Linked DNA regions of Homo sapiens: regions 1, 3 and 4 are each reported to be linked to region 2. Evidence: microRNA targets listed by miRTarBase, many of them from high-throughput screens and not tested one by one. Region 2 holds a microRNA gene; each other region holds the end of a gene's coding sequence. Distances are between the middles of the regions.
The links. Region 2 holds the annotated microRNA hsa-miR-4269 (GCAGGCACAGACAGCCCUGGC, at 4,224-4,244, shown strand). A microRNA usually pairs through its seed, bases 2 to 8, with sites in the 3' UTR of a target mRNA and lowers its output. Matches are read on the target gene's strand: a 7mer-m8 pairs with bases 2 to 8, a 7mer-A1 pairs with bases 2 to 7 and ends in A, and an 8mer does both.

Region 1 (7,921 bases), not on the chromosome of region 2:
ATCTCGCCAGTGCCCCGCAGCCTCCCACCTAGCTGCTCATCTAGCAGTTCTGTCCCTCACTGTCGACAGCCACGCCCTAGGAGGACGTTCACAGCAAGGTCCTGGCCCTTCAGTTAACGGAGGGATGTTAAATTAATAGGACTTCGTGGCTAAACGGCTCTTGAACTTCCTGTACTCTGGGCTCAGGAGCAGCAGGTTTTTCCCACAGGCAAGGCCCCGAACTCCCTCCCTCTCTACTGCCCTTTGGTTCTGCTCTCATGCCGGCAAGGCCTCGCCCCAGCCCATCTCCTAGGGGCGACGTGGGGCCAGGTGCACACGGCCCTCGCCAGTAACATCCAGGCCTTTTCCTCCCTCTTCCCTGAAACTACAGGGCTGGCAGTGGTGTGTCTGCTTTCCAAGTCACTGGAGCACACTCTGATCACAATGCCAGCTTCATGCCAGGGCCCCACCAGCCTGGCATCCCCTCCAGCCAGGCACCCCCACCTCCCAGGGCTCCACCAGCCCGGGGCATCACCAGCCCAGCGTCCCCTCTAGCCAGGCGCCCCCACCAGCCCAGAGCTCCTCCACCCCAGCACCCCACCAGCCCAGTGCCCCCTCCAGCCTGGCGCCCCCCCCTCCAGCCTGGCGGTCCCCTCCGATACCCCAACCGGCCCAGCGCCCCCACCAGCCCAGGGCTCTGCCCGCCCAACATCCCCCACCAGCCCGGCACCCCCGCCAGCTGGGTGTCCTCTCCAGCCTGGCGCCCCCACCAGCCCGGCGCCCCCTCCAGCCCAGTGCCTCCCCAAGCCCGGTGCCTCCCACCAGCGTGACAAGCCATGGGTCCCCCACTTCAAGGCCCACATTTTTTTATTAGCTGAGGTCGTGGTAGCTGTTGTACCACCTCACTAAGCGCGTCTTTTTCTGTAGTTTTGATGCTGACGTCTTGCCCATTCCTGTGCCCCGACCACCCAGCTGCGTGGAGCAGCCCCCACTCTCTGTGGATAAAAGAACTTTCTTCCTACAAGACGGTCATTCCTGCGTCTGTGTGTTACCCTCCCTGATTACAACAAATCCTAGGCTCATTTTAAAAAGATACAGGCCCCACATTTAGGAGGCTGCAGCCCAAACCTCTGCAGCCAGCATCCTATGTCTTCGCTGCAGTTTATGGCAAGACCCTGGAGACCTGGTGAGAGCACAGCCCTGGTGTCCTCCTCCGTGGCCCCCCTCATCCCCCTCTGTCAGGTGTGTAGCCCCCACTCCAAGCGTGATCTTCAGCCCCCGGCCCTGTCCCTCAGCAGCACAGGTGATAAGCCCCTCCGTCCGGAAGCACTGTCTTTACTTGGCCACCAAGACCCCCAACTTGACCGCACCCCCACTTGCCAGCCATCCCCTCTGCCCTGCCTGTGCTTCCTACCACTGTGCAGGCCCAGGCTCAGGCCTCAGACCCAGGCCCCTCACCAGCCCCAGGCCCCTCACCAGCCCCGGGCCCCTCACCAGCCCCGGGCCCACCGCACCCTGGGGCCCTGCCCTGCCCTGCCCTGCCTCCCACCCCGGCTGAGCCCACCCACACCCTGCATTCTCACATTCCATTCTCCAGCCCCAAATTCCAGGTTCACGCAGCCAACTGCCCACCTGACACCCACTAAGATGCCAAGATTGTGAGCAGGTCAGAGCCGGGCTACCAAGCAGCAGTGCCCACCCCAGCCTGCCCAGTTCTCAAACCACCATGGGCCCAGCCACCACAGCTCCCTACATCACACCCGCAACCAAGACAGCGGCCAATCCTGTGCCCCAGTGGGCCAGAACCCACCTAGTCCAGCTGTCCTCCAAACCCACCTCCTCTGAGCCACAGAACCTCCCCACCAGCGGATGGGGGCAGAAGCCTGGGCCCTGCCTACTCTCAGCTTGTGCCCCCCTTGGGGCTGAGCCCCGGCGGGCACCCATGTCCTCCAGCTGTGAGCACTTTCCTCTATGGTGTTTGCTCTTCCCTCTGGGACATGGCCATGGGGCCCCTCAGAATGGCACATATTGGGCACCACGTGACTTCAGGTAGAATGACTGAGGGACCAGCCCAGCACAGCCAGGCAGGGCAGCGAGAGGCCGGGCAGGACACCCTCCGACCACTCTGAGGACAGGGATGGCTGCAGAGCCAATGCAGGCTCACACGCAGGGACAGACAGCTGGAGGCTGAGCCCAGGCGCAGGACTTCAGAGCCACCAGCCACAACCACACCCAAGGCCATGGGGTAGACAAGGGCAGTGTGGACTGAGCGGTCAGGGTCCCCATGAGATAAACAGGAACCACTCAGAAACACTTCTCTCCTGCCAGGAGCGGTGGCCTACGCCTGTAATCCCGGCACTTTGGGAGGTAGAGGCAGGCAGATCACTTGAGCCCAGGAGTTTGGGACCAGCCTGGGCGGCATGGTGAAACCCTGCGTCTACTAAAAATGAAAATACAAAAATTAGCTGGGCATGGTGGCACGCGCCTGTAGTCTCAGCCACTCAGGAGGCTGAGATGGGAGGATTAGTTGATCCCGGAAGATCGAGGCTGCAGTCCCAGCCACTCAGGAGGCTGAGGTGGGAGGATGACTTGATCCCGGAAGATCAAGGCTGCAGTCCCAGCCACTCAGGAGGCTGAGGTGGGAGGATGACTTGATCCTGGAAGATGGAGGCTGCAGTGAGCTGACTGTGCCACTGAGTGACAGAGCAACATCTTGTCTCAAAAAAAAAAAAAAAAAAAAGAGAAACCCTCCTGTCCAACCAAGGCGGGACTTCAGAGGCCGTAGGACACATTCCCTGGGCTCCAGGGGGAGGTGCGACCACCACAGGCCCCAGAGGTTGTGATCCTGACCTGGCCGGAGTCCCAACCAGCCTCATCCCTCAAGGCAGGGTCAGCCAGGACCAGGTGAAGGAGCCCTGAAGTAGTGCAGAAAGGGAAGCAGAGGCCAGGAAGGCTGAGCCAGCCGGAACAGAATAGGCAAGCGTATGAGACACTGCACTTCCATCTCATTAATCGTTTTTTCTTTTTCATATAGGGTCTCACTCTGTTGCCCAGGCTGGAGTGCAGTAACAAGATCATAGCTCACTTGGCCTCATAGCCTTGGTCTCCAGGCTCAAGCGATCCTCCTGTCTCGGCCTCCCTTCTATGTAGCTGGGACTACAGGCACATGCCACTACACCCAGCTGCTTTTTTTATTTTTTGTAGTGGTGGGGCCTCCCTATGTTGCCCAGGCTGGTCTTGATCTCCCAGGCTCATGCAATCCTCCCATCCAGGCCTCCCAAAGCGCTGGGATTACAGGCATGAGCCACTGCATCCAGCTGCACCACCTCTTAATAAACATTAGTTTTGGCCGGGCACAGTGGTTCATGCCTGTAATCCCAGCACTTTGGGAGGCCGAGGCGGGTGGATCACCTGAGGTCAGGAGTTCAAGACCAGCCTGACCAATACGATGAAACCCCATCTCTACTAAAAATACAAAAATTGGCCGGGCATGGTGGCGCACTGCTGTAATCCCAGCTACTCAGAAGGCTGAGGCAGGAGAATCGCTTGAACCCGGGAGGCGGAGGTTGCAGTGAGCCGAAACTGCGCCACTGTACTCCAGCCTGGGTGACAAGAGCAAGACTCTGTCTTAAAAAAAAAAAAATTTCTAGTTTTGTTGAAGTTTATTGCACCTTCCAGTAAGCGCACTTGGTCTCACGCGCCAGGTGACCTCTGCTGTTTCCTGTGAGGCCATCTTCGCCTCTGTCTTCCTGGGAAGCAAACTGCACTGTCCTTACACAGATGCTGGCTCGTCCAGGGTGCAGGGCCCTACTGCCCCAGCCAGGCCGACACCGTGGGCCTCCAGGCTGTTCCGTGGGTCTGGGGCAGGTCGCAAGACAGAAGGGAAAAGCTGCAGCTGGCCTTAAGACAGGAAGTCTATGGGGACAGAGGGGATGGGGGTCTTGAGGATGACTCGGGCTCCTGAAGGCAGGGGAGGGAGGCAGGAGAGTGTCAGAGAGGCAGTGTTGTGAGGACCTCCATGCCTGCTCTGAGCTGGGGGCCACACAGCCCTGCCTGCCCATCCAGCTTTAACCCTGTGGACTGGCAACCCCCGACCCACAGAACAAGAGGGCGTGACTTCAGGCGACTCGAGCCACTGCATGTGTGATAACAACTAGAGCTGAAGGCCAGGGTCCCATCCCTGCTCCATCATGACGGGCAGCACTAGGGCACCCTGCCGGCTTCCCTCCCGCAGGCCCTGGCCTCTCAGGCCCTCTCCACCGCCAGCATCATGGGGGCACACGCGCACCCAGGACTTGGACTGCCCTGAATTCACGCATCACATCGAGAGGTGACAACTCCATGACAATAAGCCTGCTTTTGTGCTCGTAAAAATCAAGTCCCCCAGGCCCGTGAGAGTCCTGGTTCTGTGGCAGTTTATAAAAAGCAGGGCTTCAAGTGGACTTGCTCCCAGCCCAAGAAGAGCCCTGTCCGGCAGTCGAGGGTTGCTGAGAGCACGGGGGACTTTCAGAGGCTGCAGGTGGAGGAGGGTTGAGGTCTGAGGGCCTGGAACAGAGCTGGAACCAGCAGGTGGAGGTGGCAGGAGCCCTTAGGAGGAGCTGGCGGAGGGGCCGGAGGGTGGCGCAGGCCAGGGAGCATTTGCACAAATCCTGGTGGCCCACAGGAGGCCCAGCTGCATGAGAGGGTCAGAGAGGTGCTCCTGAAAGGGAGGCCTTGCTGGCCACGGCCAGGTCTTGCCGGTGCTCCTGGGTCCCATGCACCGGAATGGGAAGGCAGGCGGTCTAGGCGTGTCCACCCCTGGGACCAAGGAGGCCCAGACAGGCTGAGACTGGAGCTGGAGCCCCAGGTGTGTGCTGTCACTCAGGCACATGCCCCAGTGAGAGCATGTTCTGGCAGGGGGAATGGACGTGGCCTCGGGGCAGGGCCGGCAGGAGCCTGGAGGTGGCCCCACAAGCCCCATCGTCTGCCCACCTCAGGTCAGAGTCCGACAGCCCCAGAAGAGAGGGGAGCCCGGCAAGGCAGGCAGGGCTGGAGGCCTCAGGGCCACCTGTGTCTGCTGGTGGGGGGCGGGGGGGGTGCCATGAGGCCGACCCTCCTTCCGCCAGGCTGAGGCACGTCCCCCGGACACAGATGGCTCTTTGTCAGGGATGAGCTGAGCTTGCTGAGCAGCCTCTGGAACAAAGCCCCTCTGTCCATGCTGTGCCTCCCCACCCGGAGCACCACCTCCCGGGAAGGAGCAGAGCCCCGGGCTCCCATCCGGCGCACCCACCAGGCACAGCCTTGGCCGGAGGTGGGGGCAGCTGTGCTCACAGCCCAGGGCCAGGCCCACAGCGGGAGCCCAAATGAAGGGGGGCGGGGCCGAGATAATCCCGCTCCAGGGAGGCCTGTGCCACCTCCCCGTGGTCCTGCCACTCACCAGTGCTGGGGTATGCATGTCCTCCAGCACCTGGCCAGCCCTACACTGGCCACCACTGCCCAGGGGCTCCTCCACGCTCCCACCCCCAAACAGGGAAACCCGACAGGGTGGCAGGGGGAGGGCCAGCGGCAGGAAAGCTGCTACAATTTATTTCCGAGTCCCCTCCAGACCACCAGGCTGAGCCTGTCACGACCTCCTCAAGGGACCAGCCATTCCTGTCCCCAGTGCTGCTAGCCACAGGCCTGGGATCCGGCCAGAGTCAGCCCAGCCCCACCCCTGGAGCGAGCATGTGACGTGGGCTCTGCATCTGCATCGTCCCTGCGGCCACCTGGCCTTGGAATCTGCTCCTCCAAGACCCAGCCAGGCTGGGCCAGGGCAGGCTTCCCACACGAGGGCCCGTCGACAGGCCCTCAGCGTCCAGGTGGCGGGATCCAGATGAGACCAGGGCGGGCTCCCACCAGCCTGGCCAGTTCCTGCCGACACTGTCCCTGTAGTCGACGTAGCACCGCCTCCAGGCAGGCCTCCTGGCTCCTCAGCGTCCTGATCACCACAGCTGCCCGCAGGTCCCGGTCCCCTGCTGCCCCATCCTCTCGTCTCACCAGCCGGTGTGGCCCATGGGGCTGGGCCGGGCCACCGTCTCGCTCCCAGCACTGCTGTAGAGCTCCCAGCTCCTTTTCCACAGCCTCCCGAGAGGCCCGCCGCGCGGCACTCCACTCTGGCCCCCGTCCACAGCCTCCAGCCTGCGTGGGACACAATGGCAATGGCTCTGTCCCCCCAGGACACTGGCCTCAGGCTCCCTGAGCATTCCCTGAGCCCAGACTCAGGTGCAGGCGCTGCAGGCATGCGGGAAACGCCCATGCTCTTCAGAGAGGCTTACTGAAAATTTTAAGGGGAAAATCATGCCTGCAATTTAAGTTAAAACTCTTCAGAAAAAGAAAATAGATGGAGCCAACACAGCCCCGTGTTCACAGCCATGAACCTGCGCAGGTTAAGCGGGCAGCTCTGAGTCTAGGGTGGAGGCCCAGGTGGCCACCAGGAGGTTAGACGGGTCCCAGGCAGGTGTGGAGGAGTGACTACTACCGTGTGATGCATGTGTGGCGGACGCATGGGAGCAGCAGGGCCCACACAGCACGGGCTTCCCTCCCTCATGCAAAGAATCAGACAACAGACCTCCCGCAGGAGGGGCGGGGGCTGTCTCGCAGCAGCTGCGGCTCCTCACCAGGTGCCCTCCCGCTCCCTCAGGGTACGTGCCTCTAAGTGTGTCCCCTGCCATGCTTGACAAATGCAACTGTAGGATTCAGCAAGTCCAAAGTGCCCTCAGGTCAGCCATCCCCCGAAGGTGGGGCTGGGCTGGTGCCCAGAGCGAGGCTGGCACTCACCTTGGCCTCCCAGGCCGCCCGCCTGCGCTCCGCAGCCTCCCGCAGCTCCTCCTCCAGTGCCTGCAGCTCCCGCACTACCAGGTCCAACTCGCCACCCCCGCGCTCGGGGACCCAGGGCAGGAAGGTGGGCTGTGAGGCTGCAGCAGGCACCTCCGGGGCACAGGTGCCCAGGACCGTGTCCTACAGAGACCCAAGTGAGACAGCGTGCACCAAGCCAAGGGGACAGAGGGACAGAGGGCAAAGAGGGCAGTGGTAGTCCCCCAGGTCCCACAGCGGGCTGGATGCCACCATCTCAGCAACTGTGACGTCCAGGGAGGCACAAAGGCCACACTCTAGAAGGCCATGGAGCTGAGGGCGGGGGCAGCAGTGAGCCTCCCCAGAAGGCGAGTGGAAGTCCTAGAAAGAGCCTACACTAGGTCTGTGGCCTCCCTAAAAGCCCCTCTTCCTGTCTGGAAAACAGGAAGATCCCGAATGCCCCACCTGGGGGCTGCTGTGGGAAGGGATGCCGGGAGAGGGATGCGCGGGCTTCCTCACCATCCACCGCCAGAAGACCAGCTCAGAGCGCCGCCACGCCAGGACAGCCTCCAGGCGCTGGTTCTCACGCTCCAGAGTCCGCAGCAGCTGGAAGGCAAACGGCAGCTGGCCTAGAACCTCACACGGGACCCCATGGACAGACAGTCGGATGGACAGCTGGACCCAGCGCCGACACCCGGCCCAACGCCTAGCTCACGCCCCGCCCCTGCAGCCCTCCCCTGCCTGCGCCCAGGTTCTCTGGCCAGAGCGATGAGCAGGGCACCCTGGTGTGGTGCGGACGCCACAGCCCACCTGTCCTTTCTGCAGTGCAGGGCAGCCCCCAACCAGTGCACGGCCAGGCCCTGCCTGCCAGGCAAGAGCTGCCCCCCGGCTCTGAGGACATCCGCTGTCCCCCACACCAGCCCCACTGCCAGTCCAACAAGGTCAGGGACAGGTCCAGGTGCCTCTCAAGCCTAGACCTCTGCCCCACAGCCCTCACTGAATGCGGGCTGTATCCGGGGACTGCAGGCGGACGGGGAGGCCCCAAACGAAGGAGCAAGCCAGGCTCTGGGGGAGGGAAAACCCATCCCCTGTAACTTCAGGGACCCCCTAAGGCAGTGAGGAGTCTGCCTAG
Region 2 (7,921 bases):
CCATCCCAGCCACGACGAGGGGCGATGGTGGGGCGTATGCAGCGTGGGAACTGACCCTGCCGTGAACATTCCTCCTGCCTGCTGAGTCCTCGATCTGCTCTCAAAGTAACAGCTCCAGGGCGAGAGCAGCAGCCCACAGCCAGTGATGCCAGGCGAGGCCAGTGATGCCAGGCGAGGCTCCCACACTGGCCCACATTTCTAAATTCTGCTGGTGCTTTCTTTCTTTTTTTTTTTTTTTATTTTTCTCTCTTGAAACAGGGTCTCCCCTCTGTCACCCAGGCTGGAGTGCAGCGGTATGACATGGCTCACTGCAGCCTCGACCTCCTAGCTCGAAGGATCCTCCCACCTCAGCTTCCTGAACAGCTGGGACTACAGACGCATACCACCATGCCCAGCTAATGTTTTTAATCTTTTCTGTAGAGAGGAGGTGTTCCTATGTTGTCCAGATTGGTCTCAAACTTCTGGCCTCAAGCAATCCTCCTGCCTCAGCCTCCCAAAGTGCTGGGATTACAAGTGAGAGCCACTGTAGGCCTATTTCTTTCTTTATGAAAAAAAGTAAGAGTAAATTGTGATCAAATACTACAATGCTACTGCGGTGTGATTCCTGAATGGTAAAAACCTTACCATGCTTTGTTTCTCCATCAGATGCCTTGCTCCTCACTACTGCCAAGGAGATTACGCCTAAGACTGATGGTACAAGTCTTTTCTTTAAAACAAACAAACAAAAAAACACAACAACAACAAAAAAAACAGGCAGGGGGTGGGGGATTCAGAGTCCTTTACTGTGAGGTCAAGAATAATTCCTAGCCATGGAAAATAATCTCTAATGATGCTATAAACAGACAGCTCACCAAATCAATCAGAAAACATTCTCAGTATCATTCTCAGTCTGTCAAGAACAGAAAACCTAACTCCTGCAGGCTTTACTGTGAAATGCTTAGAACTCTGTCCTGATTGGAGAACATGGCCCCTTGTGATGGACAGGCAGGCGGCGGCCAAAGCCCAGAACCCAGCATTAGCCAAAGGAGGCATCAAGCTGAAGTCTCGGGTGAGTTCATTTCAAAGTCAAGGGCAAGGCCACCCTGGCAGCAAATTCTTCTGGCTACTCAAATTCGAATATTGCAGAACTAGCACTAGAGTTGCCAAGCTATAAAACACGAGCAGAGAGAGGAGGCCCTTCCACAGGAATCCAGATTAGCAAAACCCCTTGCTCTCTTCATCAAAACTCAGATAAGTTAGCTGAAAACCTGGGGACGGAACAGCTTCCCCCAGGAAGGAGAATCCACGTGGGGCCATGACCAAGCACTCCAAACACTGCAGCGGGCGCTGCCCCTCTTCCAGCGACACAGTGGGAGCAGCCCAGCCATCCAGTGACTTTTTGTGGACATGGCCCAGCCCCTCAACCCTCGAGCCAGGACCCAGTCCAAGAGCACAGCACCCTCCACTCTCCCTGGGCCTGAGCATGGCACCAATGTGCTTCACGCAGAGCGTTTCGTGGGCGCACCCCTGCAGGAAGAACCATCGCTGCTCAAGGCAGTCATCTAAGAACTGCTCACTCTTGAGAAGGGCAGGTCATCTTACTCCTCCCCAAAAGAGTCTCTCAAGTTAGGCTCTCACCCATAGGAGGGACTTGCTGGGCGTGCGGGGAATGGCATTGTGGTGACAGCCCCAAGCAGGGGGCCACACAGGCTCAGGCCCGGAGCACCTTGGCAGGGAGAGGAAAGGTGTGGGCACTGCCTGGGCACTCTGCATGCTGGGCTGGGCGTCACCCCTGCCACCTCGGGAGTCCTCAAACCCCCCCCGGGTGGGAGAGGTCATCACCTCCGCGTACTGAACAGAAGCCCAGCTCAGGGTTCAGGGTGGGCCCCTGGATTCAAAGTGGCAACAGAGCCTGACTCCAGCCTCAGGGCGTGAGGCACCTGGCCCTGGCCTGTTCCCATCCCACACCCGGCTGCTCAGGCCTGGGGACAGGAGGGCACAGGGACAGGCCTGGAGGACAAGGTCCCTGGAATCCCCGACAGCTTGACAATGTGAAATAAGTTTCGCTTCCTTTTTATCTACGCTCCCGGATTGACTTGTCCTCCTCTGATGCCTGGTTCCTCTGCCATCAAGACCCGCCGTCTGGTGTGAAGGGAAACGTCCCTCACCCTTCTGCAGTCGCCACCGAGCACTCGTGGTGTGGCCCACAGGGCATCCTGCGAGAGCGTCACAAGCACCCCACGAACAAGACACGGCAGCGTGCTTCCTCGATCTCCCCGCTCCTTTCTCGGGACAGCCTGTGGCTTGTTCTCCCTTAAGAATCCTCTCATCAATGTTACGTTGTCAGCTTTCTCTGTTTTCTTTCTTTCTTTTTTTTTTTTAATTCACAATTGAGGAAACCAACAGGTTGAGCTGCTGCCTCAAGTAAAAAATTCAAGTCAGCCCTGATGCTGTCCATGTTTTTTGTAAAACTTGCTCACTTGTAAACAACGTCGGGCAGCAACTGCAGGCCTCACCCCTCACTCTTCAAAAGCGACTGCGACAGCTGCATCCCCCGTGCTCAACTGCAGGGCGCGGCACTCGCCTATGCTCTCATGAAGCCCCGTGCCAAGGGCTTCTCCGGGACCCCAGATACCCACCAGACCCTACAGGCCTGCCCCGTGGCCCTGGGAATGCTTGGCACCAAGGTCCCACTTCCCACCTCAGTCAAGCACCTGCCTCCCAGGCCTCACCAGTCTTCATCTCAGCCCGCCAGGTCCTCTCGAGCCCCTGGAGTGCCCTGTGAGCCACAGCTTATAAAGCAGATAGGACCAGCTCTGCATCAGACCCCTGTGTGCAGGCCCAGCTCCCCGACCCGTAAGCAGTTGACCTCAGACCAGCTGCTTAACCTCTCTGAGTCAGCTTTCTTACCTATAAATGAGGATAAAAGCAGGATATTCACAAAGCCCAGAGCTAGAATGCCTCAAGCAGTGTGAGCTCGGGGAAGAAGTCCACACAGGACACAAAGCCCAGAGCTGGGAAGGCCTCAAGCAGTGTGAGCTCGGGGGAAGGAGTCCACACAGGAGCAGTACCTGTTGCAATATTTTTATTACATGCTGGGAAGATTAAATGAGATAAGCCGTGTAAACACCAGGCACATAGAAAGCATGAAATGATACCAGGTGGTGGCATGGTGTTACTTTCATTATTAATAATTTGAAAAAGCAGATTAACAGCTCAGGCCCTGCTGAACTCAGAGCCCCCATGAGGATAGAGGCTATAACGTAACAGACATGAAACGTCCTGAAAGCTCCACGTGCAAAGTGAGTTGCTTATGCCTGCGTAAACTTCTTGTTCTTCAAAAGATATGCTGTTTTTAAAAGGGACTGACTGGTGAAAAAACCTCACACACAAGGCAGTGCCCCTTTGCCAGGTCCTGTAAACACTACCGTGTCCTGCCCTCGGCTCCTGGGGTCAGGAGCTCTCAACGAAGGTGTGACCCTTGTGCCCAGCGTGCAGACTCCAGGGGTAACTGCTTGCTTCTGAATCTCCTTAATGGAGCTTAGGAATGACACGCTATGGACGCTGACTGTCCAAGCAGAAACAAGGCCCCCTTGGGGGCTTTCTAAAGTTAGTAAATACATGTATATATAATATATATACACACACATAGGAGAACGCGAATGACTGGGCACCCAGGGTCTCTGTGGGGAGCCACATGGCCCAGCAGAGAACACAGTTAGCATCACAGAGTCCAGCCGTCCCCTCCCCACGTCAATAGGACAGTCCCGCGCTTTCTTCCAGCCGGCCTGGGGCATGTCAGGAGGCAGGGCCTGTACTGCAGGCTCTGTGTTCTTAGACAGCCTTTGCAGGGGGCAGAGGTGCCCACTGCCACATGGGCACACACAGGAGGCTCACCACGTTTCTTCAAATGCAGATGACAAAGCAGCTTGAGTAACACAAATACGGCCACACTCATCTGAGGATTGCTGCTGTGTTTTCTAACTGCATGGCCATGACCAAGCAGTCGGTTTTCATCCAGGTTGGTAGTCAGGTTTCTGAAAGCGATGGCAGTCGCCTCAGGGCTGACACGGGGAGTCTGCTTGGCACACCTTCACCCTCGTTACATTTTCTGGACAATGGTAGGGAACATTCCTTACTCCGCTGGCCTGTCAGCTTGGCTAAGCCTGGTGCAAGTGGCTCGCTGTGGGTCCGCGGCTCCATTACGGGGGAGTCTGGGTCATCTGTGAGCCCAACAGCGCCCTGCAGGCACAGACAGCCCTGGCTTCTGCCTCTTTCTTTGTGGAAGCCACTCTGTCAGGCCTGGGATGGAGGGGCAAGAGGCTTTCAAATTTTTCCTTATTGTTGTATATTTTTTAAAAAACTATTTATTTTAATGGTGAAATAAGTTCTAAAAGTTTCTGGACTTGTAGGTAAATGAATAAGAACTGAGTGTGGTTTTTAATCATGTTCACATTATTGGTGACGGTGCGGCTTAGTTTCATTTAGTGACTAAATTCTAGCCATCCCTAGACTGATGGCCACGAAACGTGTATTTCGAGTTGAAATACATTTATTTAACACACATGCACACACAATTACACGTGCACACAGGAAGCTTTAGCAAGTACTTCTCTGACCCCATTCCCTAAACACGACTGGGAACGAGGCTGCCGCTGCCCACACGGGCCCTGAATCTGACAGCATTCAAGGAGACCACGGAGGAACCGTGACAAAGAGCTGGTAGCCACCGGCATTTCAGATGAATGCAGCACCCTGGGCAAGCACAGTGTCTGCGTCTCCCCCACGCTGAAATGATTCCTAGTGTCCTAGACTGCCTGGCTTCACATGAGAAACACTCTGCTTAAGTAACTACTTCATCACTCAAGGTCCCAAAGAATGCTGCCCACCTCGGTCAGCCTTGCTTCTAGAAACCGAGGATTCTGGGTTTGGAGGCACCCCAGCTCTTCCCTGGGAAGTCATTTTCCTGAATAGATCTGACTTCCACTTATTTTCCTATCATTTCCCATCTTTTCATACATTTAGAAGGCAAAAAAAGTTCATCTTTCTAGTGATTCCAGGAGCTCCCTGGCCCATCCACAGGTGGGTGAGCTCCCACCCAGGTCCAGCAAGTCAGTGACTACAACAGAGGACACAGCCTTCCAGTGGACACGAGGACCTCAGAGGCCACCTGGCCAGGCCCCATCCACGGATGTGTCCCTGCCCAGGTGCCAGCAAGGACTGACTAATACCTGACCCAGGGCCAAGCTATCCTGTGTCCCATACTCGGCCCGTAGAGCCATCAAATCATCTGGGCCCCGACACACTTGTTTCGTACCTTTCCCGGTCATGATACAAAACATAAGCTGGAAAGGGTGCTCTTCACCTAAACAAGGTCAAACACAGGCACTACATCAGGCACCCCATGTTCCCCCTATATGCCCCCCACACTGCCCAGGTGATGGCAGAACCCAGGTCCTCGGGCGCAGAGCATCCAGGGCCCAGGGCCCACAGGGTTTTACATGGTGAAAAGGGGTAGGGGGTGAATGCTAAGGGGCGAAGGCAGGACCCCACCCCAGCCAACAACCGGGAGACCCTGGCCTGGTTTCCCACACACCCCCGAGGAGCCAGACAGGATCGAGAGAACCTTCTGGAAGGAGCTGCAGGGATGCATGGGGGCGTTCAGGAATGTCCAAGGAGGGCCTGAGCCTCCCGTGTGCACCTCCCCAAGGGCGCCTGCACCCTGGGCCCAGGGTAACCCAGAAGCAGCAGGAGCCGCAGGACCATAGGGGCCACCGGCAGGGTGGGTGATGCCATCCTTCCCACTCTCGCCCTCCGGCCTTCATTCAGCACTCTGGTGAGCCCAGAGGCCCGAGTCGTCCGGATGGCCCATCTCAGGCCACACCCTCCAGCTCTGTGCCTGCCGTCCATCCTGGGTGCCCACGAGGGGTCTGGAAACCCTGACAGGGAGGGAGAAGAGAGCCCTGGGCACAAAGCCCAGGGCCTGGGGCAGGCTCCGTGCCCCAATGGTCATCCTCAGATGAGTGGGGGCTGTGCTCAGGACCCTCAGGGGACCATGGGCTACTTTCAGAAACAAGAGGGTGTTCTGTTTAGAAGCAGAGAGCCGAGGAGCCGGAGGCCCCAACACAAGAGCGGCTCTCCGTGATGCCCAGAGGCGGCCACTGGGCCCCAGGAGAGAGGGGCTTGAAGGATGGGTACCCCAAGCTGTCAAAAGACCAAGTGGCTACAAAAGGGAACCCCCCTCCCACCACTAATCAGGGACCTGCCAGAGATACGAGGGCCCAGTGGTCACTAAGGCCCATCTCTGCAGCTCCGTCCTCTCACCTAGATAAAGTGAGTGTCTGCTTCCTGGACCTCGCAGACTCACCAGGGACCCTAAACTTGGTTTTCCAAATAGCCAAACGACAACTCCTGCTCAAGAAAACGCATGCAAGAGAAGCCCTCCTCACTCAGATGACGTTCTCATGACCGCACTTGGTCTAAGCAAATGCTGCTGGGATGATTTTCTTCAAGTTCTCTTTTAGAACAAGCAAAATGGAATGAGGATGTCGGAGTGTTTCGTGCTTTCTTTCCAGAGGGTTTCCCAGCCTGAAACGCCACCCCACAGCCACTGTGGATTTGGGGACTGTCACACACGTCTCCACGCACCCCGAGCCACATCACGTTTTGCCACTATCTCAGAATTCCTGATCTCCACCTGAAAACGGAACACAAGGCCCGGCAGCAACAGCCAGCAAAGTGTCCCCATCCCCCCCAAAGTGAGCGGCCACACAGCAATGAGTGGCCACACAGCAACGAGCTGCGAGGAGCCAAGGATGGCCCATCCCACCCCCAACGGTGAGAGCCGGGCCCATCACAAGCCCTCTCTGGGCCTTGTCACTCACCCTTCCTACACCCCATCACTCACCCTCCCTGGGCCCCAGCTTCCTCATCTGTGAGATGGGGGTGGTCAGCGTGCAGGAAGCCCTCCTTGACGATGAGCTATCAGCTTAGGGACAAGAGAGCTAGAGACCCGGGGGGGAGTCCACTGCCTTGGGGACACGAGGGAGCCAGGGTCACTTTCTTCCTCATCAAGCTGGCCCCCTGGTGACACGGGACAAGAGGATAACCTGCTTGGTACTCAGCAACAGGCTTTCCTAATAAGAATTCCACACTTCCATGAGGCTGTAATCAACTTGGGAGTGAGGAGTTCCTTAGCTTCCTGTTTTCAGAGAGTCTTCTTAGCAAAGTGAGGAATCTGCAGATCTCTCTGAAAGATCAGCTACCAAAGGAAAATAACAATAATGAAGATATCGTTGGTGGAATACATAACCTCCATCCACAGCCAGATACTGCTTCCGGAACCACACTTCGTATCCAGGTGAGCTCGTTTTTTGTATTTCAAAAGCACAAAGATCTATGTTCATGGTGTAGTCCAGGCAGAGTGTGGTTAACAGGCCTCCGGGTGTCCCCCCCTTCCAGCCCAGTGCAGGGGTTCAGCCGCTGCAGAAACTCCGAATCTGCTAACGTGAAGTGCCAAGACTGCTGTCCGCCAGCGCCCTCACTCCCCCAGGGCCTGTACCTGTAGCAGGAGGCTCACGTTCCGAGTCCTCATTGCTCCCAGACCCAAGGGCAAGGCTGTCACAGGCGAAAGACGGGTTCCCCTTCCTCTACACCCAAGCCCTCGGAAGCACGCTGCAGGCCCCTGGAGGTGCCACAGTGCTCCCAGCTCCCCCAGAGGCTGAGTTCAAACATTCTAAACGGATTCTTGATAACAAGCCGCCGGCTCGCTGGAAGACACTGAGCAGTTACATAACAGCACAGAAAATCCCTTACAAGTTTCTTAAAAAAGAGTTAATCGTACTGACTTGGTGCTTTACCTTCAGCCCAGACTTTCGCTTAATCCCGGAAACTGCTCCAAAGGCGTTTTTCTCAGGGCGTTCGGCGCCGTAACTCAGGAGAA
Region 3 (7,921 bases), not on the chromosome of region 2:
AAAATTTTCTGTAACTGAAGTAATAATTTATTGTACCTTCTCTCCAACTAAAAATGTTGTTTTGTGTGTGTGCAATAATCCAAGTTTTATTGCTGTCAGTCATAAGCTCAGATCCTGTTAAAACATCTTTAGTTTTTCGTTGTTGGATGTTTAATTCTGGCTCCAGGTGACTAACTTTGTCAATTCTGTTTTTGATTGTTGAGAGAAAGCTTTTTATCAAGCACCCTATGTATCTGCTGAAAATGTCTCTTCATAATAGTACACTCCATTATCTTTCCATTTTTTTAACACAACAAAAAAGGTGTGTGTTTTCTTTTGCTGTACTGTGGCGTATTATAATTACTATTAATCATGAAATTTGCAACATGTCTTCTGCTAATCTATAGTTCTCTTTCCTGTTCTAATTGTAGCACTAGCTTAATCATCTCCATTCAATTCTGCATCAGCATTATACCTTCACTTCAAAATTAAAACTTGGCTATACTTATTTTAAGCTAAAAAGTAATTTAATTGTATTATAAATAAAATAATAATTAGCATTTAATTTTAATTATCATTAACAATATAGATAGGTGTAACTATAACTCATGCTATCTACATAAAATATTCAAATAAAGATATTGTGTCCTGATAAAAAATTATTCAAATTGAATCAATCCATTGACACTGACTAGATCAGGGATATATTTATACATGGTGCTGAAAACAATCCATGTGGCAACACATTTGCAGTCCAATACAGATACATCTCTATTTTCAGATTTTTTCTTTTACTTCTTTTTTTTTTTTTTTAAGAGATGGGGTTCCACCATGTTGCCCAGGCTGGTCTTGAAATCCTGGGCCAATTATCCTCCAGTGTTAGCCTCCCAAAGTGCTGGAATTACAAGCGTGAGCCACCATGCCTGGCTCAGATGCTTCTCAACTTACAACAGAGTTACGTCCTGATAAACCCATTGTAAGGTGAAATATTGAAAGTCTAAAATGCACTCAATAAACCTAACCTGCTGGTCATTATAGCTTGGCAACAGTACACTGTAGGGTAGCAGTTGTTTACCAGAGTAATCGCGTGCTGACTGGGAGTTGCAGCTCACTGCCACAGCTGAGCTTCGTGAGAGGGTGTCACATGGCTTTCTACTGCATGCACAGAACTTTCATATCATCATCAAGTCAAGAAATCCTAAGTCAAACCCTCATAAGTCAGGGATGATCTGTAATATCTTAAGTGAGGCAACAGTTAGAGGTAAAGGTATTTCCACCAAAATAGTAAAGTTGTGTTTCATGGTAAAATATTTTACACTGTTTCAAAATTTAAAAGTAATGACAACTGAATAAAATTTAAAATTTAGTTTCTCAGGTGTACCCCTATATATTAAGTGCTCAGTAGCCACATGTGGATAATACCTACCTTATTGGATACTGTCGTTTCTAGAAAATATTCAAACGTGGAATTTTAATACACACTTCTACATAATCCATGAGTGAAAAAAGACAGCACAAGAAATATAGAAAGTATTTTAAAAGAACGATAGTGAAAATAGAATATTTTAAAATGTGGGCCAGGCGTGGTGGCTCATGCCTGTAATTTCACCACTTTGGTAGGCTGAAGCAGGAGGATTGCTTGAGCTCAGGAGTTTGAGACCAGCCTGGACAACAAAGTGAGACCCCATCTCTACAAAAACTAAAAAATTAAGCTGGGTGTGGTGATGCATGCCTGTGGTCCCAGGTACACAGGAAACTCAGGTGGGGGAATTGCTTGAGCCTAGGAGGTTGAGGCTTCAGTGAGCCATGATCATGCCACTGCACACCAGCCTGGGCAACAGAGCAAGATCCTGTCTCAAAAAAAAAAAAGATAAAAATGTGTGAGATACAGATAAACATGCACAGAAGGACATTTTATATCTCTATATTTATATGTTCGAAAAGAAGAATTTTTAGTAAGGTAAAGGATATTGTAGGTAACATGTTGTAGAGGCTTTGGATATTATATCTTCTGCAGAATATTGAGTTTGTTCCAACGGGCACTTAAATTACTGGTGGATCGCTTTTGCCTTGGGAAGGCTTGATTTTAGACATCATTAGCAAGGGTTTGCTTTAATTTGCTCTTCCTTCTAGGGCAAGTCTCTCAGTGCTGAGATGCAGTACTTACTCCTAAAATATGATCCTTTTGGTATTTCAGTGGAAATATACAAGTTTACCAAGGTCTTCTAACTTGATGGACTGGAACTTGCAATTCTCTTTGCTACTGTGGGCAACTGCTGACATCTCTGATCAGCTCTTTCAACCTCCACAGAAGTTTTCCTGGGATCCTCTGGAGAGTGCCCTGTGCTTGTACAGTTCAGGGTCAGCCAAGGATTTGAAGGGAGAAATGCAGAGCTTTTGGTACCCAGCCCGCAAATCCCCACCACTCCATCTCCCCGCTCTGCAGCTCTTTTATTTTGGGGAGCTCCCATGTAAATTTTTACCTGCTCTGGTTGTCCCAGGCTCCACCCTCCCACCCTCCAGGCCACTGTGAACATCTGGTGTGTGCCATGTCTGCATCCACACGACTGAATACTGCCTTAATGTGAAAAGTCACACCAAGATGAGACTAGTGTGGTCCCCTCATCTTAGGGGTCAGGTTCTCTGCATGAGTGTCTACCTGCATTTAGCCATTTCCCATGCCTTCAAAGTTATTTTCTTAGTATTATAATTTTGAATTTTCTATGCACTTTATAAATGTTATCACAAAAAGGTTAGAGGCTGGAATCTTTCTGTAACACTCCACACCTGCTTTGATCCACCAAGGAGGAAAAACCCTGTACTGACTTAGCTCAAATTCTCCAAATCCCTGTTTTTCATCCTTCACTTTAGTGTAGAGATATTTTTAACAAACTCTAAAAGCTGCTATTATCACAGCTTTGGCCAAGACAACCCTCTCTCATCACCATCACCCCCCACCACTAATTTCTTACTGGTTGATAGACTAGAGTTTCTAGAACATACCCACACATGCTTTCCCCATTCTCCTCTGAAGCTGAAAGAGTGAGAGCTATGCAGAGACATCTATCCCTATTCCTGAAATGTCATGGGAGATATCTTTCCTGGTGCTTAGCAATAAAAGAGAGAAAACACCATATTTGAGGTAAATAAAAACAACATTTAATGAATGACATGTTTTGAGTGCCTTGCCAGTTAGTCGCTGAATGGATCTCATTTGGTCAAATGCTTGTGTTTTCTATTATGACATTACTTAAGCTAATAGAGTTAAAATAATAGCATCAAAATTTACAAAATTATCTCCTATCTGAATGAAAATGCAAATGATTCTAACTTTTACTTCAGTAGCTCTGGAGTTTCAAGTCTGTTCACTTAGAAATAAAATGGCCTTAATTAACTTATACTTGAACTACCAATTCCCTCAAACTTAACATAAATGTAAGACATTGCCAACTAGAATACCAATATGATTTTGGGGGGAAATTACAGAATGATTTTAACTCTCACATAGAAGAAAAAAATGCCTGAGAATAACAAGGTAAATATAAAAATGAAGACTGAGGCAAAAATTGGCTCCCACATTATAGTCAAAGCCACTGTAATCAAATCAATATTTTATTCATACAGGAGTAGAAAAGTAGAAGACATGAACAGAAATAAAAATTCTGACCAAATCTTAAGGAGTGTGAATGAGAACTGAATGTATGATAAATGTTGCATGTTCAGTTCAATGGGAAATTGATCGCTTATTTAATAAGTGATTGTGGCACAAAGGCTGTCTTCAGCAAACACCAAATAACTCTGTGCTCTGCTTTGAGACACTTTTCTGAATCTGTTAGCAAGAGAAATGCTGAAGCTTTCTCAGATGTCTGCTGTGTCTAGGGAAGATGGGGGATGGCTTCAGAGCAAGAGGCCACAGGTCGGCTGTGAGCATCTGTGTCTAGCTGTTGAGCATCTCCAACAGTGGATGAGTGTCCAGGTAGACCTGAGGCTGTGCCCTGAGATTTCTGATCATCTCCCAGCACTGTCTCCACCAGCTGTACTTCCCGCCCCTCTCGGGAGAAACTAGCTAAAGGCCCCCTGCTACGCAGCTTGAAGAAAGGAAAAGAGGAATATATTGGGGAGCAGTTTCCCCAATGCCTCCTATTATCTTCCCAAATGTCGGTCAACTCCCCAGGAGCATCTTGGACCTCAAAGGAGGTGGGGTGCACCCGGGGCACATCAGTCTCCTCTTGCTGGCAGGCAGCTTCCTATCCGAGGCCTGAGACAGGATGACATCCTACTCCCTTCTCATCCTGTCCAGTATCAGTACTTATAAACCCCGTCTGTAGGAACAGCCTTCCAGGAAAACATCATGGGCTTCAGAGTTCTCCCATAAACCAGGCAGGCTGCCTCGCAAGATGTTTAAGTCACTCTACTGCTTCCTTTGCAGGCCCCCTTTCTTCCCTGCCTCCTTGCATTGGACCCCCACAAATACTTTGCTAGGGAACCCGTTTGCACACGCAGACACCCCATCCACATGCTCCCATTATCAAGGGAGAAGGGAGGGGTGGCAGTGAAGGGCGAGGCAGGTTGAAAGTAGTCTGTGCCTTCTAGGAGCAGAAGGCAAATATCATGAGGGGCCATGAAACCCATGGAAAAAGGGGAAGTAACAGATGCAAGTCATCTCTAATCTAAGTCTACCTTGGTGGGGTGGTGTGACCTCCTCTGCCCAAGTCCACTTGCATCCCTAGGGGCTTCCATGTTCTGTAGCCAGGGCAAGGGACCACCTACTTGACCACAGTCTGACTTCTTGGATACCCTGCCCCAAACTTCTCCCATCATTCCCACTAGGAAGTTCCAACGGGGCTTGTTTGTTACAGCTCAAGAGTGAATAAAAGGGCTGCTCCTCCTGCCTCCATCCCTGTTCCTGCTTGCTCTCCTCCCAGCCCAGTCTCCAACCCTCCCCACCCAGTCTCCAACCCTCCCCATGTCTCAGCACCACTGCCATGTTCCAGCCACCAGACACAACAGGCACCTTAAACCATCATGGTGTGGGGAGAGATGAGAAGTCATCTGGTCAACAGCTTGCATGGAGTTGCCGCACCAAACGTGACTGCATGACTCCAATGCAGTCAAAAGCTGTGGAAGTTACACAGAAGTAAAAGATACAGGCCTGCCCTCAAGAAACTTTGGTTCTATCAGAGTATAGACAAGTAACTCATGAAAGGCAATGCAATGAGATAGAAGGTCCAATAGGAAGACAGCGTGCTGTTGGGGCACAGAGGAGGGAGGACCCAGATGTTCTGGAAGAAGGAATGAAGGAACTGGAATGTGATCTGGGCATGCTGGACCCTGTCCTCAAGCCCCATGCCCCTCTTCCTACACCAGACGTCATGACCTGGAGACTGGGAAGCACTCCATGGGATGGAAAGAGAAACAGAGGGCTGGACACAGGGGGGTGCAAAGGCTGATGGTGTCCTTGGCTCAAGTCCAGCACAGGCTCAAAGGTCAGCCTTCCCCAGCAGGCATCTGTGGGCTTCCTCAGATTCCTTCTGGATCTGGGACAGTCCTTCCAGCCAAGACTCCTCACCAGGCACGTCCTCAGAGCCTTGGCCCTGGCTTACTTGCCTTTCCTGTAGTTCTTTCAGCCGAAAGTTTTGCTGGGTATATTGGTAAGCCTTGTTGCTGTAATAATCTCCTTCGTTTTCCCACATAATGGCTTCAACTTTCTCCATGAGCTCTCGCAGTTGGGCCTCCTGCTCCTCCCCCTGTGCCCTGTTGTTGAAGCCGCAATGGCGCCGTGCAAGGGTCACATCCAGCCAGGCAAGGGCCTGGTTGTTGGTCTCTCGCACATAGTCTTCCAGGGAGCCGCCAGCCAGGTCTTCCTTCCGGGTGAACACCAGGATGGTGTGACCCAGAACCCCCACTCCAAAGACCTCCTGCAGGCGCCTGACCACCTGCTGATCCTCATCCGTGAACCGGCCCAGTTGTGTCACCAGGAGCACGGCGTGGGGCCCTGGGGCGGATAAGACGATGGCTTGGCAGATAGCGTCTGCCACCTCTGGCGAGACCTGGGGGGACAGAATGTTGGGTGTGTCAATCACCTCAAGCTCCTTCCCAGCCCACTCTCGGCTCCGTCTCTGGGAGGTCTTGGTCACGGGTCTGGTGCTGAGTTTAGACTCGAAGACGTCCCTGCCGAGGATGCTGTTTCCTGTTGCACTCTTCCCACTCCCTGTTTTCCCCATGAGAATGAGCCTCAGTCTCCTTGGGGTCTTCTGTTCTTTCTCCCTTAGACCTAGAAATATCCAAAGAAAGCAGAGGGAACTGGGGTAAGGGCCCATGTACCCCATCTTGTCATCACCAGGAGCCTCTGGGTGTACCCCCAGACTGCAGGGGCAGATTGTAAAAGACCAACATCTGCCCTGAAACCAGCGCTGGGCCACCATTCTGGGCCCACATCCTTGAAGGTGGGGCTGAACGTTCTCTCCCAGTGCAAGAGCAGAGCCTAGAAAGAAGAGCGAGACTTGGCCAATAGAACACCAAGAAACCCAATACCAAGGTTTTTAGATATGACTGGGGAAGAAGGCAGGAAGGGAATTCCCTTCTCCTGGCCTTGCGGGTCCCAAGACCCAGAGCACATAAAGAAGTGACAAGTAATAGCTGGTTTCCCAGTCTTGTCCCCACTGAAGACATTGATGTATCTCAGATGACAAAGCATGAAGCTGGCATGTGGCAGCATGGGCGTGGCCATCTCCTGAATCTCCTGGGCACCAACAGGCCTTGCTGTGGCCTGACAGCCACCCTTGGCTCTGACCCACGTGCCAATTCTAACTGAGTGACATTGGGCCCCCTCCAGCTTCCCCAAGGTGGCTGGAAGGAATTTGAATGAATGGGCAGAAGTCTGGGCAGTAGATCTTCATCCCCACCCACCTAGCCCAGTGCAGAGCCAGAGGAGACAGGAACCCCCATCTGAGCAGCCTGGAGCTAGCACACACCACTGGACTTTACTAAAGCCAAATGCATCACTTGAGCTCTGGAGAGGATTCTTAAAAGAATAGCTAACCTTGATTGCTATAACAAAAGGTCAAACAGGTGTTACACAGGTATTGGTAATGTCCCTATTGTAGTAGGTTAACGTGGCTTTTTCCAGATGGCTCAGGCCATTTAAGTTCATAAAGTAAAAGGTCATTCATATTAAAATACATAATGAATCACAAATCATTTCTTCTGGCCAGGAAAGGGCTGGGTTTCCAGCATTTGTAAATCCTGCCTCCCCAGGATGAATGACGAAGTTGAGCCCATGAAAGTTAAGCGCCTGACCCTGTGCAATGGCTTTTGGGAAAGGGACGCCCTCGATAAGGCAGAGCCCAGATCTGAGGCAGCAGCCAAGTACATTCTGCTTGTGCACAAGGCGCTTTCAAACTTACAACTGTGACAGCTCCACTTCGGAGTCAGCCAAACACCCATACAGGGTCTGTTGGCATCCAAGCCTCAGTCCAAGGCCACTTATTTTCGTCACACGCACTGTCAGCACATCCATCCTGAGGAAGAACATCTACCATGTGAAAGCATTTCCTTTGGGACTGGCATGGTGATTTAGTCATTGGTGCTATTTCTCGCCTCCTTTTATCTACCATACCTATCCAGGGGTCTTTTTTCTTATTTTTGGCTAGTGATAAGAAGGGCCCTACCCCAAAGGCCTCTGATGGTGGCTGAGGCGGGTAAATTTCTGTGACTGGGGGACGTCAGCTTCCTCTCCAAGCACACTATGGTGGTGGAGCTGTGTCCCACCTGCACCCCAAATGTTTCCCACTTGCTCCCCTCTCCTCATTCATTTTACCTCCTGACAGCTCCAGCACAGGATCCTGGGACAGCTCTTCTGGGGGATTCTCCTGGGGAATTTGTTCATATTCTTCTTCCTCCATCTACAAAAAAAAAAAAAAAAAAAAAATCATATGTTCTA
Region 4 (7,576 bases), 120 Mb from region 2:
CTCCCAGGTTCAAGTGATTCTCCTGCCTCAGCCTCCCGAGTAGCTGGGATTACAGGTGCCTGCCACTATGCCCAGCTAATTTTTTGTATTTTTTTTTTTTTTCCGAAATGGAGTTTTGCTCTTGTTGCCCAGGCTGTAGTGCAATGACGCAATCTCAGCTCACCACAACCTCCACCTCCTGGGTTCAAGCATTTCTCCTACCTCAGCCTCCTGAGTAGCTGGAATTACAGGCATGCACCACCACACCCGGCTAATTTTGTATTTTTAGTAGAGATGAGGTTTCTCCATGTTGGTCGGGCTAGTCTTGAACTCCTGACCTCAGGTGATCCGCCTGCCTCAGCCTCCCAAAGTGCTGGGATTACAGGCGTGAGTGACCGCACTCAGCCAATTTTTTGTATTTTTTTAGTAGAAACAGGGTTTCACCATGTTGGCCAGGCTGGTCTTGAACTCCTGACCTCGTGATTTGCCCGCCTTGGCCTCCCAAAGTGCTGGGATTACAGGCATGAGCCACCACGCCTGGCCTTTTCCCAAATATTTTCTATCCATAGTTGGTTAGCGCAGAGGGCCGACTCTACCTGGAAATGTAAAAGCTAAAAATAACAATGGCAAACACATTTGCACTTGCTTTAGTTTTTAAAATTGAATTTTTAAAAATTTCAAGCCTACAGAAAAATTGAAAGAATAGTACAATGAATACCTGTTTACATGCCACTTAGATTTACCACTTGTTAACATTTTGCTACATCTGCTTAATCTTCTCATTTTGTGTGTGTCTTTGTCAGCCATTTGAAAGTTGCAAATATCGTAACTCCTTTCTGAAATGCTTTATCATGTGCTTTCTAACAAGAAGTATATTCTGTGACACAACTAGATACTGTTTTTGATAGTATTTTTGAGGGAAGACTGAATTGAATTTTGCTTAAGAACTCAAAAAATCCATAGTGAGGTCTAGTTGCCAAGGTTGTGAATATATTAAAAAGCCAGTTTTTAAAAGATTCATCCTTTCTTCACTTACTTTGGGAGAAATTATGTGTATATTTTTATATTCTGAGGCTTAACTTGCATTCACAGCATGACTTTATTTTCATGTGTTTTTTAGTTGAGCCAGATCGGGAGAAAGGATTTCATCTGGATGTAGAAGATTATCTCTCAGGAGTTCTAATTCTTGCCAGTGAACTGGTAAGCTCAGTAACTTGCTGGTTGCTTTTTTGATCTTTCTGCTTCACTGTCAGTTTTTTTTTTTTTTTTTTTTTTTGAGACAGAGTCCCGCTCTGTCGCCTAGGCTGGAGTGCAGTGGCGCAATCTCGGCTCACTGCAAGCTCCGCCTCCCGAGTTCATGCCATTCTCCTGCCTCAGCCTCCTGAGTAGCTGGGACTACAGGCGCCCGCCACCACACCCGGCTAATTTTTTTTTGTATTTTTAGTAGAGACGGGGTTTCACCGTGTTAGCCAGGATGGTCTCGATCTCCTGACCTCGTGATCCGCCCACCTTGGCCTCCCAGAGTGCTGGGATTATAGGCGTGAGCCACTGTGCCTGGCCCACTGTCTGTTTTTAAAATGGGTACCAAAATTCAGAACGTCTTAATTCTTTTCTAAGCCATCTCTCGGTCACCAGGTAGTCACTGACTGGCACTGTATGTGTTACAATTTACTAGGCATCAGAGAAAAGCCAGATCAAATGATGAGTGCATACTTACTGAGTTAAGAATTTTTAACCGATGATAAGACCTCTTCCTTTTAGGGTAGTGGCAAAACATTTATTCCTGGTAACTGTTAATCCATGTAATTGTTTTGGACACTCATTTGTCTATATAACTAAGTTATTCTTATCCTTTATTCCTTTAACCACTATCTAGGGAAATTGCCCTGTAAAAGTCTAAAGAAAAAAAAAGCTGTCAGTAGCAAAATTGAGTAGTTGTGATAGAGACTGTGCCAGTCTGCAGAGGTGAAAATATTTACTATCTGGCTCGTTAAGAAAAAGTTTGCTTGTCCTTGCTCCAGAGGAAAGCAGTCCAGGGCTGGTCTGATGATTCCTTGATCTTTGGCCCTAGGTTCTTCTAGCTTCAGCTTCTTTCTTATGTTCCAGAACTGTTGCTCTAGTCACATCTTCACTCTAGCCAGCAGTAGGAGGAAATAGGGAAAATGGTATGCCCTCCCGCTTTAAGGACATTTCTTTGAAGTTGTACACACAACTTCTGTTAACATTCTGGTGCCTTGCCTGCAGGGAGGCAGAAATGGAGTCTATTGGAGTGGGTATGTGTGCATTGAAAACCTGAGGAAGATGGTGAGAATGGATGATGGGGTCCACTTGTAGGCTGTACCACTTGTCTGGCTTGTTGGAGACACCTGACCAGTAAACAGGAAGCATCTTGTTAGTATTAGTTAAGTGTAAGGTGTCTTTAGGACCATACATGTTGGGGCCGGGCACAGTCGCTTACGCTTGTAATGCTGGCAGTTTTGGAGACCAAGGTGGGAGGATCCCTTGAGGCCAGGAGTTCCACACCAGCCTAAGCAACAAAGCAAGACCCCTTCTCTATATTAAAAACAAACAAACAAACAAAAAACCCGTATGTTGACAGTGCACTAAAGGGGTAAGCCTGGAAAAGTGGAGAGGATTTTACAGAAAGGGGAATCTTTTTTATTATTTTAATATATTTTTTAAAGCCAGTCAAATGGAGCAGTAGGGGGTTGTATACTGACACCGAGAAGGGGAGTCTTGGGTTGGGTCTTGAAATCAATGTTAGTTCTCCTTCAAGACAGGGTTACACTAACATAATTTTAGATTCTTATCCCAAGTCTGCCTTACTTGATTCTAGGTGACTGGAGTTGCAGCTTAGTAGGTGGGCTCTAGAAATGTGATCATTTGGCCAAGGTTGGAAGAGGTAGTGGAGCTGCTGTGATTATTTTGTCGTTTCTTTCTTCGATATGATAGCAGATGAGCTGTAAAGATGCTTGTGTAATGTAACACTTTATTATGCAATAGCCAGTTTAAGAAATTAGAGAAATTTTAGATGTTAGTAATGTTAAATTTTACTTGGCAGAACTGGTCTCATTTTCAGTGGGATTCTTTTCAGAGAAGCTCCTGTCTTGTCTGTACTTGTGTGTACCCTGAGATAGAAGATCAGCGTGGCTGTCTAGGCTTGCGGTTCTTCTGGTTGTGATTCAGAGGAAGATGCGCTGAGAAGGAGCCATGTTGTAACAAGCCCCTGTTTTCTCTTTCCTGGTACAGTCGAGGCTGTCTGTCAACAGCGTGACTGCTGGAGACTACTCCCGACCCCTCCACATCTCCACCTTCATCAATGAGCTGGATTCCGGTTTTCGCCTTCTCAACCTGAAAAATGACTCCCTGAGGAAGCGCTACGACGGATTGAAATATGACGTGAAGAAAGTAGAGGAAGTGGTCTATGATCTCTCCATCCGGGGCTTTAATAAGGAGACGGCAGCAGCTTGTGTTGAAAAATAGGAGGCTCTCCTTGCTCCTGGCCTTGCTGACCTCAGCGGTTGCCAGGAAGGGGTGAGCACAGAGTGCCTCTTACGGTAGTTAGGATGCTCAGTTGCTAAACACTGCGCTTTATTTTCTTAACCAGTTGTGGTGTGAGTATCAGAATTGAAACACTTTTTTGGGGGTAAAAAATATAGCCTTTACATGGACAGAATTTTTTTTGTTGTTTCAGTGAATATGCCTGTAATTCAGTGTATTTCAGTTCCGTCAGAAAGTGTAAATGTTAGTTTCTTGGTAAAGTCCTTTTCTTGCTTACCTTGACTGTTGATGTACTGATTGAGAAGTTCATTGTCTCGTTTGTGATTCTTCCAGATGTGATGCTTGATATTTTCTATATGCGAGTTAGCCATCCACACCCAGGCATAGCCTGGATACAGTATAAAAATAGATAATTAAAAAGATGGTTGCCAAGCAAGGAAAACTTATTTTATATTTTCCCTTCCTTATTTTAAGCATTGTGAGTAAATCAGATGTTGAATTCTTTTGCCAAGGGAATTATAGCTGCAGGTTCTCTCTCACTGCCATCAAACTGTAAAAGATTAAACTGCGAAGTCAAGCTCAACAGATTATTTTGGAAAGTTTTTGTATTAAGGGATTTAGTAACATCATTTTGTTTTCCACCAGGCAGGGAGTAGGGCTTAGTGTTTTAAAACACCTCTGCTTTCTGATGTTGCCTTAATATTCTGCTATTGCAGCAATTAAAAATTGTCTTCATGTACATTTGGAACTAACACGTGATGTGATATATTCCTAAACTATGAAACCTTTTTCCTAGTAGTCAGCTAGATCATTTGTTCTGGGAGTATAAAGCCACCCACGTAAGTTAATAAGCAAAATCCTGACTATTATGTTGTTAGAGAAAAATGCTTTGCTTTGTCTGGAAGAAAGATAAAATAGTGAATTATAAATAAGTCAGGCCGGGCGTGGTGGCTCACACCTGTAATCCCAGCACACTGGGAGGCCGAGGCAGGGGGACTGCTTGAGCTCAGGAGTTCGAGACCAGCCTGGGCAACAAAGTGAGACTCCATCTCTATATAAAAACAAAAACCACGAAAGCACACACAAAATAAATCAGTGGGATTTGGTAATGTGTTTTAGAGTAAGAAATTTCAGGTTGTTGGTGACTATCCCAACAGTCATGTTTTAAATGTACAGTTTGGGGCAAGTCATGTAAATACTGTTGGTGGTCTTCCCCACACGCCCCAATTTTCAGGTAGTACTAAGAGTATGTGCCAGGAAACTCTTGCTATTGAATTGAGATGATTAAAATGGTGACTTAATCCGTAGTTATTTTGCACCCACTGAAAGGAAAGTGCTTTCCAGAATAATATGAAGTATCTAAAAGTGTCACCTTTTCTTGCCTGATCAACAATTTGGGCTTCCTGTTTGTACAAGGGGCCATTTGGCATACCTTTCACAGCTTTTATCAGGCCAAGTTAAAGGCTGACTACATTTTTTCATCATGAGGAAAGCAGTTGAAATGAGGCATGAGTTACTGTGCATTGGGATTTTAGAACAATTTTCTTGTGACAGCTCTTTTTGTGAAGTTAGGTTCTTAAAAGTGCCCATGATGGTCACTTAAAATGTGCAGTAATAGCACTGCCAGGATCAAGCATGAAAGGCTTTTAAATTAGATCATCCCACAGACAATACGTTTGATAATAGTTTTTTCTTTTAACCTCTTTAAGTATTGATTCTGCTTGAGAATATTGAAGTACTTGCCAGAAGTTGTGGATTTCAGTTTTAACAAATGCTATTAAAGTGGAGAAGCACACTCTGGTCTTGGAATTCCATTTGAGGATTTAGAAGTGTCATGTTTATAACTATTCAGTTGTGTTTGTTGCTGGCTTGTTGTAAAGCAATAAAATTTTTTTGGTCTTTTTGTAAGTGAGTGTGCTGCTGTAAGAAATCTCCCATGTGCATAACAAATTCTGAATATTTTTTGAGGCTAAAGAAGACCGGGGTGACAAGCAGATACTGCTGTGTAATGGTTACACTAACCAAAAGACACCAGCCACTCAGAGTTCTATACTGTAAAGCGCAGATAACATTTGTGTGTTATACCTTGATTGGGGAATTAAAAGTCATTTAACTGAAGATGTTGAGAAACCTGGGCTCTGGTTTTAGTATACCGGAATTACTTTTTTCCAATTTTAGAAAATCAAGCAGGTTAGAGAAAATAGAGATGAATTAGGGGACACTGTCTTATGGATTCATTTATAAGAAGAGAACCAGCCATATACACTTGGGGAGATTTGCCACATCTTAAACTTGAATAATAGTATGAGTAATGCTTAAGGGAGTTTAATAGAGAAGGAAAGCTTTGGCAGTGTTTTGAGAACTTAAGTGGCTAAAGAGATGAGACAAACATGCAGGTCGCTACTGGCATAGTTTCATAATTGTGTACTCGGAAATTAAAGTTTGCTTGTTTCTTGGTCTGGATTAAACTGTTTGTCCTCCTTTTCAGATAGAGCATCACAGTCAGGGCTGACACCAAAATAAGACTTTCCCTGAGCCTGAAATAATTTTTTTTTTTTTTTAAGTATCTACTGTAATAAGCATCAAACAAGCAGAAATAAACAATGTCCCTTCCCCTGGACAACAACAACAGCAATAACAAACATTTAAAGGCGGTAAAATTGCCAGGACTGGTGGGTTGGTTGAGTGGGCTGGGTGCGGGTAGTAGGACGAGATGGGACGGGACGGGGAGGAATCTAGCATCGCTGCCAGGTTTCTGGCTCAGGTTTGGTGCCATTCACTGAGGTGAGGAGTGTAGGAAGATCGCATGTCTGGAGGGGGCTGGGCAGCTGATGCATTTGCTTTTGGATGTGTTGGATTTATGACACTGGAGCGGCAGGTGGATAAATCAAAAGTGGGTAAGATCTCCCTGGAGAACGTGTAGAATGAGAAGAGTCACAAGCTGGGGACAAATTCTTGGTTAACAGCATGGCTTAACAAGGTAGGCAGAGGAAATGGAGTCCATGAGGAAGTGGAGAAATGGTCAGAGAGGCTAACAGAATGGGAAGAGTGGCTTGTTTCAGAAGCCAGGGAATAAAGGGTCTTAAGTTTTGGGGTGAGGGATTTAAAATAATCTACAGCCTGGGAGCTCCATGACTAATCTGTCAGGTTACGCTAGGTTATCCTGTGGGAACACCACCAGAGCTCATAGGCAAAGAACAAGGTTTCTCACTCACATTCCCTCTCCATTGCAGCTTAGCTGGGGATCTGTTCCACGTTGTCTTTATGTAGGGTGACAGAGCAGCCACTAACTGGACCATTGCTAGTTTTAGTGGGAGAGGGAGGGAGCTGTGGAGTGTCTTGCACAAATACATGATCTGGTCACTCTGACAATTATTGTTTTTTTTTTTTTTTTTTTTTTTGGAGATAGTCTGGCTCTGTCACCAGGGCTGGAGTGCATTAGTGCAATCTGGGCTCACTGCAACCTTCACCTCCTGGGCTCAAGCGATCCTCCCTCTTCAGCCTGCCTAGTATCAATAGCTGGGACTACAGGTGCAGGCTACCATGCCTGGCTAATATTTAAAATTTTTTATAGAGACAGGGTTTCACTATGTTGCCCAGGCTGGTCTCAAACTCCTGGGCTCAAGTGATCGTCCCACTTTGGCCCCCCAGTGTGTTGGGATTACAGGTGTGAGCCACTACACCCGGCTTCAATTCATTGTTTAAAGGTAGACACGTGGCCCTGCTAAACCACAAGGGGGTCGGAAGTGAAATCCTATCTTGTAGGATGAGAGTCAGGAATGGATAGACAAAATACTGAAGTTTGGGGGTATGTTTAGTTCAATTTGTTAAATATATAGTTGTAATACTTCCATATACACATGAACACCAATTGGCTTGGGAGGGAGAGAAGGTGCCCCAGGACCACTCTCCTGTTTGACAGAGTTCTCTGGTATGTGTGCATTTGTGTTGGATTTGTGTTACATTTTAAGCCAACATTCAGCGAGCTCTATGTGTTCCATGGGCTGGGCTAAACATTTTGTTTAATTATCTCATTTTGTCCTTATATAAGACAACTATGTGAGGTAGCTACTACTATTTTCCCTATTTTAGACTT

Region 1: the mRNA of TEDC1 is a reported target of hsa-miR-4269. The part of its 3' UTR that is shown has no 7-base or 8-base seed match.
Region 3: the mRNA of GIMAP6 is a reported target of hsa-miR-4269. Seed matches in the 3' UTR shown: 7mer-m8 at 4,987-4,993.
Region 4: the mRNA of TSN is a reported target of hsa-miR-4269. Seed matches in the 3' UTR shown: 7mer-A1 at 4,860-4,866.

Annotation. Positions count from the first base shown.
Region 1 is chr14:105,496,831-105,504,751 of GRCh38, reverse strand. It overlaps TEDC1 (tubulin epsilon and delta complex 1), which reads right to left. Exons shown (of 9, transcript NM_001367178.1): 7 at 7,309-7,395; 8 at 6,775-6,954; 9 at 5,504-6,135. The coding sequence ends at 5,806. Among named protein-coding and RNA genes, the nearest start is that of TEDC1, 9.5 kb to the right of the region's middle. RefSeq lists a silencer at 5,646-5,940.
Region 2 is chr2:239,301,249-239,309,169 of GRCh38, forward strand. MIR4269 (microRNA 4269) reads left to right here and starts at 4,214; the gene lies at 4,214-4,297. The region is part of intron 2 of HDAC4 (histone deacetylase 4); the gene reads right to left. RefSeq lists enhancers at 1,891-1,980, 6,317-6,963.
Region 3 is chr7:150,622,260-150,630,180 of GRCh38, forward strand. It overlaps GIMAP6 (GTPase, IMAP family member 6), which reads right to left. Exons shown (of 3, transcript NM_024711.6): 2 at 7,799-7,883; 3 at 3,116-6,253. The coding sequence starts at 7,883. The coding sequence ends at 5,460. Among named protein-coding and RNA genes, the nearest start is that of GIMAP6, 6.2 kb to the right of the region's middle. RefSeq lists silencers at 7,068-7,268, 7,288-7,488.
Region 4 is chr2:121,761,906-121,769,481 of GRCh38, forward strand. It overlaps TSN (translin), which reads left to right. Exons shown (of 6, transcript NM_004622.3): 5 at 1,100-1,179; 6 at 3,229-5,948. The coding sequence ends at 3,462. Among named protein-coding and RNA genes, the nearest start is that of TSN, 10 kb to the left of the region's middle.